Linked DNA regions of Homo sapiens. The protein of the gene in region 3 interacts with the protein of the main gene of each other region in a pairwise test. Each region holds a gene or a part of one and is shown on either strand. Other genes may lie near its edges. The genes, in order: VEZT, C1GALT1 and ANKS6.

The links.
Region 1: the proteins of ANKS6 (region 3) and VEZT interact in a two-hybrid assay, tested with the Homo sapiens proteins (one large-scale study listed by BioGRID).
Region 2: the proteins of ANKS6 (region 3) and C1GALT1 interact in a two-hybrid assay, tested with the Homo sapiens proteins (one large-scale study listed by BioGRID).

The regions. Positions count from the first base shown.
Region 1 is NC_000012.12:95,297,806-95,300,710, reverse strand, and holds part of VEZT (vezatin), read right to left. Parts: intron 1,850-2,905; coding exon of another isoform or gene 1,815-1,849; exon of another isoform or gene 1,768-1,814; intron 1,618-1,767; coding exon of another isoform or gene 1,595-1,617; exon of another isoform or gene 547-1,594; coding exon 38-546; 3' UTR 1-37. UniProt on the Homo sapiens protein: Plays a pivotal role in the establishment of adherens junctions and their maintenance in adult life.
Region 2 is NC_000007.14:7,237,990-7,241,648, reverse strand, and holds part of C1GALT1 (glycoprotein-N-acetylgalactosamine 3-beta-galactosyltransferase 1), read right to left. Parts: intron 3,395-3,659; coding exon 2,727-3,394; intron 1-2,726. UniProt on the Homo sapiens protein: Glycosyltransferase that generates the core 1 O-glycan Gal-beta1-3GalNAc-alpha1-Ser/Thr (T antigen), which is a precursor for many extended O-glycans in glycoproteins.
Region 3 is NC_000009.12:98,786,409-98,790,067, forward strand, and holds part of ANKS6 (ankyrin repeat and SAM domain-containing protein 6), read right to left. Parts: intron 1-3,659.

The DNA.
Region 1 (2,905 bases), on a different chromosome or scaffold from region 3:
GGAACAATCTAATATCACTTCATATGAATCTTGGTTCTTACTTTTCTTCTATCTCATTTTTATTTTCTTCTATTATTTGTTCTTCCTCCTCACCACCAAAAGTCTGTTCCTGCATGGTGGTAAAGGAGAGAGATCTAGCAGCCACTTCTGCAGCAAGGCCAGCAGTGAAGGTAAAATCTGGTGACAGCTGTAGCCGTGCCAGCCTCTGCTTAATGGAGGGCTGTAATGAGTCCCTGGGAGTTGGAGGGGCAGTGGTCAGACCACTTCCATCTGCTTGTGGTTCATCTTCACTCTCACATTGGTAACACATTCTTTCTTCTGCTCCTTGGGGGAAGACTTCATTTGAAGAATTATCTTTATTTTTACCTTCTAGAGAGTTTTCACATAAATACTCAGTCCTACTTATTTCATTGTCTGTTGTGGCGGATTTATTACTTTCCTCTTCAGTATCATTTTTACTGACTTTTCCCATATCTGAATTCATTGATGGTTCTGAATTACTTATGGGTTCCACTGGGTCTACAGGAGACAAGGATTTCAACACGGCTTCAAATAAAAAAAAAGAAAAAAGAAAAAAAATAACTAAGGACCTAGCAATGATTTAAACTTTTAATTCAAACTCTCAGTTTTTTTCTTAAAAAGAACAATAAATAAATAAAAGCTAAATAAAACTTTCTAGTAAAATCAATGAAAATTTATAAATCCAGGAAACTTTATAAGAGAGAAAATGCCTAAGAAATGAAATGAGATAGGGATTTGATGAAGGTTTTTATGACACCTCACATATTATCTTATTTAAAATATTAAAGCAGTGGTTCTGAAAGTGTGTTCCCTGAACCAACATTATCAGTTATCACCTAGGAATTTGTTAAAAATGCAAATTCTTGGGCCTGATCCCAGACCTCCTGAAATGGAAACTCTGGGAGTAGGGACCAGCTATATTTTACAAGCCCTCATCTTGATTCTGATACACACTAAAGTTTGAGAACCATTGTATTAGGGAATAAGCAGCATGGTTTTCACTGATAATACATCAGATAAAAGGCTTAAAGTAATCTAGATAATAATAATATCTTCCATATGTATACATATATATTTACAAGTTAAAACAGCATGGAAAAAAATGCAACATACAATTTAACTTACTTGCCAACCACCTAACAAGACCCTAATGAAAGAAAAGCCATAACTTCTACACATTTTGTAGTACCACGAAAAATACAAATGAAGTCTGCATTCAAGATCAACTATTGTACAAAATATAATACATAAATATAATATATATTCATACGGTAGAAGTTGTCCTTGCAAGGAAAATGCAGTTTTATTTAGCCCCTCTTGATGTTAGTAGGCAGTGGGTTGCTTGCTAGGCAGTCGCTCATCCCAGCATGAGGGGTTAGTACAATACAATATAGTATGAAGCATGACGGAAGGAAAAAAGTGCTTCTCGAAGAGCTGGCGTGTATTTAAAAAACGTTTTTGTAAAATGTGTCCACTTCCAGGAACCATCCCTAAGCTGCAGTAACTCCACTAGAGAAGCAGCAACAACAGAAAAAAAATGGCCACAGCAGGTTCCAGTGCAGACTTTCCCCCTCTAATTCCATGCGGACTTTACCCCTGTAGGCAGAGATGAAAACAGCTCTGGAAGATGTACTGAAATTTTTCATGGGAAAAGCATTCTATGGTATCAGCAGCTTTTTACTTATTTTCACAAACTAAAACAGCATTATGACCCTTTCCAATGTAAACTATATCAAAAGCACATACCTGAAAAAGAGACACATTTCTCTCATTGATAAATCTTTCCCATAATGTCAATAGCATAATTTTAAAGCTATATGAAGAAACACTAAACAATAAAAAAGGATATAAGTTTATATACAATGCTATTTTCAATATATGTACATTCTTAGTTTATAAATCTGTTAGCTCTTAAAGGAAGCAACATATATTAGAAGTTGGTTGATAGTTCACAATTATTACTAATTAAATGGGGTGGATATAATCTGAGTAATGAGAGGATCAATTGACGAGTGTGTTAGAATTTAAGCCTTGAGGCAGGTAGGAGGCTTTACATTTTGTCTCTTGATCTTTGCGCTAGGGATACAGCAGTAAACAGTGCCTGACATATAACAAGTACCTAATAACTACTTGTTGAATGAGTAATTTGCTGAATGAATGCTGTGGGATAATAAGGCCCCTATTTAAGAAGACTGTAATTTTGTTACAGAGACAAACAAAACAAAACAAAACAAAACCCTGAACATATAGAAAACAACAGTGCCTAAAATTAATCTCTGATGTATGTAGGCCCAGTATATGAATGAACAGATTGCAGGAAATCAATCTGTTAATCATTTCCCTTCTCTGCTATATGCTTTGGGGTTCAAGACTTCCTTTATATTTTATCACAATGTTCCTCTAGTGTGAGGGTCTGTAGTGTTAGGAGAGGCGGCAGAGCTGGAGCACTCAGAGAAGGATTCATGGAGAAGGAGAGACTAGTAGAGAGGACAGCTTGGTGGAGAAGGCAGAATTCTTGGTAAAGGGGTAAGCATGAATTATTATTATTATTATTATTATTATTATTTTTTGAGAGAGAGTCTCACTCTGTCACCCAGGCTGGAGTGCAGTGGTGCGATGTCGGCTCACTGCAACCTCCACCTCCCAGGTTCAAGCGATTCTCCTGCCTCAGCCTCCAGAGCAGCTGGGATTATAGGTGTGCGCCATCACACCTGGCTAATTTTTGTATTTTTAGTAGAGAGGGGGTTTCGCCATGTTGGCCAGGCTGGTCTTGAACTCCTGACCTCAAGTGATCCACCTGCCTTGGCCTCCCAAAGTGTTGGAATTAGAGGCGTGAGCCACTGTGCTTGGCCAGCATGAATTTTTTTCATGAATAAAAATAACA
Region 2 (3,659 bases), on a different chromosome or scaffold from region 3:
TTAAAAGCCCAAGTAGAACAGTAACAAAAATATTGCATACCTATGGAAATAGTTTATAAAACTTGACCAAAGGACCTAAAAGGTGACTTACAAAAAATCCTGGGCAAAGATGTTATTGTCCCTAAATTAATGAGTTTGTATGCAAAGATAAAGAAATGAGTTGCCAAAACACTTAGAAAAAAAGAAGAGTTAATTTGCCCTTAGAATAGTAACTTAAAACTGCTGTAAAGCTACAAGGTTCAAAACAATATGGTGCTGGGCCAAAATCAAATGAGAACAATGGCATAGAAATGAAATCCCAGATTTAGATCCTACTATAAGTAAGGTTACAGTGTATGATAAGGGGGACATTTTAAATCAGTAATGAGTTAAAAAATGGTAGTAGAATAATTAGTTAACAATTTAAAAAAATCAGGAGCTCTCTACCTCACTTATGTACTAATATGTTTCAGATAGAATAATGTAAATAAAACTGAATAAAGTAGATCATATTTGACCATTTCTGACCTACAGAAAAGTCAATTTTTCATGTAGAGAGATATATATGTAAACAATTACACATATATTTTAAATCTACCATATTAAGACTCACTGCAACTTCTCTGGTGAAAAGTCTATTACTAAGAAGGTGGAGTGGGAAGGGAACTGCTTAAGAGTCAGTTCTGAACAAGAAATTTAGGAATGTAACTCTTTCATGAATTAGAATATCTTTTACCCTGACTTGCTAGATAAAAATTTTCTGTATTTTCAGTAATTAGTATATAGAAAAAAAAAGTATGTATAAGATTTAAACTCATTTAGGGGGAAGAAAACTTACTAAATGATAGATGGATAATAATAGAATTTTAGTTTCACGTTGGGTTTATGTAAGAATCTCCTGAGGGAGAACAGGCAATGTCAGATTGATGGGTCAATTTTGGTACTCTGAATTCTAATTCTGTTTTATGGTCTTCAACATAATTTGATAAATTTCTAGAGAAAGAACAAATTTGCCAATTATGATGTCCCTTTGCTACTACTGTATGTGTATCCAACATCAGATACTCTTAGTAAGATCTTATATGCATTTGGATGTATTTGCTACATGTTTATATTCTTGAATTTGGGTAAATTTTTTATATGGGAAAAGGATACAGAATTAAGGAAAAAAGATCAAGTCATCTTGGAATGGTCAAAATATATTAAGAAAAGTTTACATCAAAAAAGCATCCAAAGTAGTACTCTCACTAAAATAGAAAAACAGACTATCAAAAGTTTCCTTTTAAAGCTGATTACCTAAAGCTTGGGTCAGATGTTCTAGGCCAGGGTCTCTGAACCATGGTACTACTGACATTTTGGGCTAGAGTAATTCTTTGTTGTAGGAGGCTGTCCTGTGCATTTTAGGATGTTTAGCATTTAGTAGGTTTATAATGTAGTGGGTTTCTACCCATTAGATGCCAGTAGCAGCCTCCTAGCTGTAACAACCAAAAATGTCTCCAGACCTTGCCAAATGTCCTCTGGGGGCAAAATTGCCCTGGGTTGAGAATCACTGTTCCAGATGATGATTTGAAAGCATTGCCTTATGAAGATGACAGTAGTAGCATGAAGTGTATTATTTATACGTTAGGTCCACAGAAAAGAAGGCATAGAGAACTAGTGACTTGCCTAAAGGCATTATTAGTAACAGAACTGAGCCTAAAAGCTAGGTTCCATGATTCCTGGTCTCATTCAGTTATTCACTGAAGCAATGCTTATAATAGTGAACACAGCAGACATGTAATTAACATTGATAAATCTCAATGTTGTGTGAAAAGGGCAAGTTGTAGAAAGATATTTATTTAAAAATCTGAAAAACAATACTATAGCATTTTCTTCTTTAAATAACTGAAACAAATGTGGCAAAAAGATTAATATTTGGTAAAGACAGGGGATAAGTACAATGTATATTCTGAAATATTTGTACTACTGGAATACTTCCTAAAATAATGCACTTTAGATAAAATTCTCAGGAATGTGAGCCAAGGCTTATTAAATGCTTACTGTGTGAAGGGCTGTACTATGTTGTAATTACAACAACTAAATAAGACAGGTACATTATGTCCATCTTACAAATGAGGAAACTGAAGCTCAGATGTCATCCAAGGCTCCTGTCCATCCAAGGTTGTTCGGCTATTAAGTGAGAGAGCAGGATTTGACTCTAGGTCTTTCTGAACCTCCATTAAATCCTCCTGATGACTAGAAGGCTCTTTACCCAGATCTTCACCCAACTTGCTCTCTAATAACACTCAGGGTTCTGCTCAAAAGTCACCTCTTTGAGAGGCCTTCTTAATCACCCAAACCAGAGGACTCCATCCCACTCTGGGTCACTCTCCATCCCCTTACTTGGCTTATTTTTCTTCAGGGCACTTACTACTAAAATCCTATTTTATATTTACAAGTCTGCCTGTTTACTGTATATCTCCTCATCCAGAATGTAAGGTTCACGAGAACTGGAAATTGGCTGTGATTTACTTCTACATTCTCAGTGCCTGGCATATAACAGCATCAATAGCTATTTGCTAAGTGACTACTGCTGATTGCTGATGTCCCTGTTCTCATCTATTTTGTTATACTGCCACTCTATTTAAAAAGACTAAGGAAGAGTCCTTGTTGTTGGTACTAAAGAAACATACACATATTAACATGTTTTTATCAACAAAATTCAGTCAGTCCAAGTATTGACATAGTAATAAAATTTCTAAACTTACCTCTACAGGAGGATAATAGTTGTAATTCCAGTACCAAAACGTTCTAGGTAGATAACCTTTAATTAAATGGTGTTCTGGCACAAAGGGATGAAAAGTTTCTTTTCCAATGGTATCTCTGGAATCTCCTGCTTCTACATTCATAATTTCCATGCATCTCCCCAGTGCTAAGTCTTCAATGGAGGAACTATGTGTACACTTGTCTGTTTTAAATGCATCAACAAATCTTTTCAAGGCTTCTTTGCTTAGTACATATCCTGCTCCTCCACTCATGTAGCCCTGCTTTACATAAGGCTTAAATCTTCTCCCAAAGTAAATGGGTTCTTCAGGGTCGTATTTTGAAAGAAGCCACCTCAAATTGTCTAGTATGACATACGTGTCATCATCTGCTTTCAAAAACCAATCAGCATCTTCTAAATAATGTTCATGAACATACTGAAAAGCTTTAATTGTTTTCCAGTATAGTTGATCTCTGCCTTCTTTGGTTTTCAGTCCCACAGCAGGGAAGTCTTTATTTTCTTCTGAACTCATAAACAACACTTTGTTACAACGCTGGGCCCAAGTAGCTTTGACGTGTTTGGCCTTTTTCTCTAGGTTTTGAGGGCCGGTCATAACCCAGCAAAGAATTCTAACTTTCTGATAGAGGTTTTCAGCAATGTCTGTGTTCTCATCTATTAAACAAAACATTTTAAAAGGTTATTTACATAGATGTAAAATCCAAATATTAATAAATTATACTGAAGAAAGCACTGTCCTAATTTCAAAGTCCCTATTTATCCCTCTATTAGTGATTTAGCCAAAGGAAAGCAAACTCATCCTAATGTGAACTGACACTCTGATTTATTGGTTTCATGTCAGTGTTATCTAGGACATCACTGGAGCTAGTAAGAGTTGACATTATAATCTAAATTCGTCTCAAACTGTAGTTTACTGATT
Region 3 (3,659 bases):
TGCTTCCAGAACAGCTGGGATTACAGGCACCCACCACCGCATCTGGCTAATTTTTGTATTTTTAGTAGAGATGGGGTTTCACCATCTTGGCCAGGTTGGTCTCGAACTCCTGACCTCGTGATTCACCCACCTCCGCCTCCCAAAGTGCTGGGATTACAGGCGTGAGCCACCACACCTGGCCAGAATCCCAGAATTCTTCATGGAAAGTACGGACACTGCCATGGGACACAGTATATCAATTTTGCCTGTGAAATACTATCAAGAAACTATTCTGCACCTGACTTTTAAAAAAAATATGTCATGTTCTTTCAAGTATTCAAGAACCAACTTTGCTGTGGGGTGGGGTCTTCTCATGCCAAGACCTTTTCACAGAAAAGAGTGTCACCTGGTCTTAGTGTTGGCTGCTAAGCAACCATCTGACACAAGTTAATCACTGACAGCAGAGCCTGGCCCCAAGAGGCAGGGGCAGCTGTGTCCTGACACCCAGTGACTCTGGGCAGGTCCCTTCCTCGCTTTGGGCTTCAGTTTTTTTCGTCTATATCCAAGCAGTCCCAGGGACCCTGCCCCAACCCAAGGAAAAGAAATCAGCTCCAACTCCACACCACAACCTCAGTGGGGAGTCAGAGGTGTCGCAATGACAGTTACAGCATCAAAAGTACCCTGTCCTGCTGCTAATGAAAGGCAGAGACCAGGGGACCTCCAAGGCCTTGGTGGGGGCTGGATTTCCGGGAACTGCACAGTAAGAGCTGGGGCTCCTATTATTTATTTCATAATCTGTCATTATCAATAGCACAGCCTGCACCCTACCTGGGGCTCTTCCCAGGGATCCCCCAGGGCCAACACACTCCCTCAGGTCCTGCATGTCTGCTGCAGTCCCACCTTCTCAAGGTTGCCCAACCACTCCATTTGACACAGCAGGATGAATTGTCCCAGCTTTGCCACACCCAACCTCTTTACACTGCCCTTTTTTTTTTTTTTTTAACCCTGTGGCACTTACCACCTATCCTACTATATATTTAATATGCTTATTTCCTACTGACTGCCTGTCTCCCCTTATCAAGGCCAAGGTCCTCAAGGTCAGGGATTTGGATCTCATTTGTTCACTGATGTATCCAAAGTGCCTAGAAAGGTGCCTGATACATAGCAGGCCTCAGTACGTCTTTGTAAAGTATCGGAATGAATGTATCATCAATCAAAACATAATAGTTTCCATTTATTGGATGTCGTCTATGTGCCAGGGCACTGCGATGAAAATTTTACAGGCCTGATCTTACTATTCCTCACAAAAATCTCCCAAGAAAAGAGCCTTTATTATGACTATCTTATGAAAAAAGACACTGTAGTCCTGCAGGGCCAATTAAGATGACCAAGACCACCCAGGTACAGAGTGGGAGAACTGAGCCTCAGACTAGTTCTGCTCAATGGGAACATGACCAGATCCTGCTGGAAGACCCGAGGTTCGCTCCTGTCAAATAACGCCGACAACACTATGGAGTAATCCACTTCCCATGTGCTCCCTCTGGGCCAGGCAGGATCTCACATGAACCCCACAGCAGCCCTGAGGCGGGTATCACTCCAGCACCCATTTGTGGAGAAGGAAATGGGAGCTTGGTGAACTGAGGCAGCTGGTTCAAGGTCCCTTGGCCAGCAGGGGCACAGCCAGCATCGAACCAAGTGGACAGTGACCTTGGCCACATCCACCAATGTGTCTGAGCCACTGCATCTTGGGGAAATGAGGGCATCGCCATCCCATGATGCCAGGACAACCCCTAAAATGAGGCCTGTCAGAAGCTAAGCCCGAGGGCACTCCGTGAAGATTCAAGATGCAGAGGCTAAGGAAACCTGGGATGGAGAACGCATGCACAACAGAAGAGGCACAGCTCGGCAGGCACGGGCAGGTGCAAGTTCTGGAGTGTTCACTTCTGAGCCTGAATTCCCTCCCCTGCAAAATGGGGGAATACCCTCCTCAGAGGGTCCCTGCGAGGGTGAGGGGAGATTCAGCATGGCAGGTGTGCTGGGCACGGCAGGGCCTGGGAAGGGCAGATCCTTTCCCCATCCCTGCCACAAACAACCCAAACCTTTAAAGGAGAGCAATGGCCTTGTGTCAAAAACAAAAACAAAACAAAACCCTGTCCTAGGAGACTGGGGCCCTAATTTCTAATAGCAAGCCTTTATGAGTCCCTAACACTCTACTGGGCTGAGTATCTCACACGCCAGAGGATAACCTGCCTTCTGCTCACCACCACCCCGTAGTAGTTGTCATTGTGTCCATTTCACAGATGAGGCAAAGGCTCAGAAGAGTCATGTGTTAAACCAGCTTCTAGAGCCCATGCAGGAGCTGCAGGTGGGAGAATCACCTCTAGGTGCTCTTCCCATGGAATCCTCACCTCCTGAGTGTCACTCACTCAGCTTCCAATGGGTGTGTGACCTTTGACCAGCTTTCTTCCCTCTCTGGGCCTCAGTTTCCCACCTGGACAAAGTAAGAGGTCTCTTGGCTTCAGGTAGTTCTTCCTAAACTTCTTTTTCCTTTTCATTTGAGCATCCTCTTCATTTTTGCCACCTCTCTGTCATTACAGGCTTTTAAAACATGTTTATTTCAGACTTGTTCTGATTGGATGGTGTATTTCTTTTTTTTTTTTTTTGGAGAGTGTATTTCTAATAAGCATTTACCAAATTTTCAGCATCTCTTGATTGATGGGGCTATTCTATATTCTTTCAATGGTAACAAACTTAACACTTTCAGGTCTTTTTAGCCAATGTGCCTGAAGCTACTTTCTTCAGTGCTTGACCTCTCAGAGCTAGATGTTTATATACACTGCAGCCCACCTACTGTTACTCCCTGGCTGTGAGTCCTGCCGTCGAAGTCAGGCCTTTTACATAGACAGAGGGTACCAAGGCTGTGTGTTGCGATCTTATTGCAAACCGTGCATTAAAGGTTTTGAAACGTGGTATGTCCTATGGCAGATTTGCTAAGGATTGTTTAGACAACTCTTTACATGCCAGAGAGATGGCAAGAAGTTAAAAAAAAAAAAAAAAAAAAGATGCACTGCTAGATGTTTTTTAAAAAACTAATTTTCATCAATTTTACATGAACTAGTGTTTGAGAAATGATCAGGGCAGAGGAGGTCAGGCACACTATTGTAGAACAAGGGCTGGCAAACTATAGCCCATGGCTCAAATATATCCCACTGCTTGTTTTTGTAGTTATAATTTATTGGAACCTAGCCATACCTGACTCATTTACATATTATATGCATAGCCACACCCATTCATTTACTCATTACATATGTAAGGCTGCTTTCACTCTAGCAGAAGTGACTACTGTAGTTTTAACAGAGACTGTATGGTCCATACAGTCTATTTGGCCTTTTACAGAAAAAGTTTGCCAAACCTTGTTGTAGAAGGGCCCCAGAACCACCTGCATCAGAATGATGTGCTTGGGGAGAGCAGCCTTGTTATAGAGGCTTCCAGGCTCTTGCCCAGGGCTACCAAATCACTCTGCAGAGAGTGGGCCCAGAACCTGCATGTCACAGGCAATCCCCCCGATACTTAAGCACACCACTTCCTCAGTCTCAGTGGTCTGCAGGGCTGGACTCTGAGTTCTGCGTGTCCTTCCAGTAGAGCAATCCTCAGCTTAAGCCACATAAACACAATTTGGG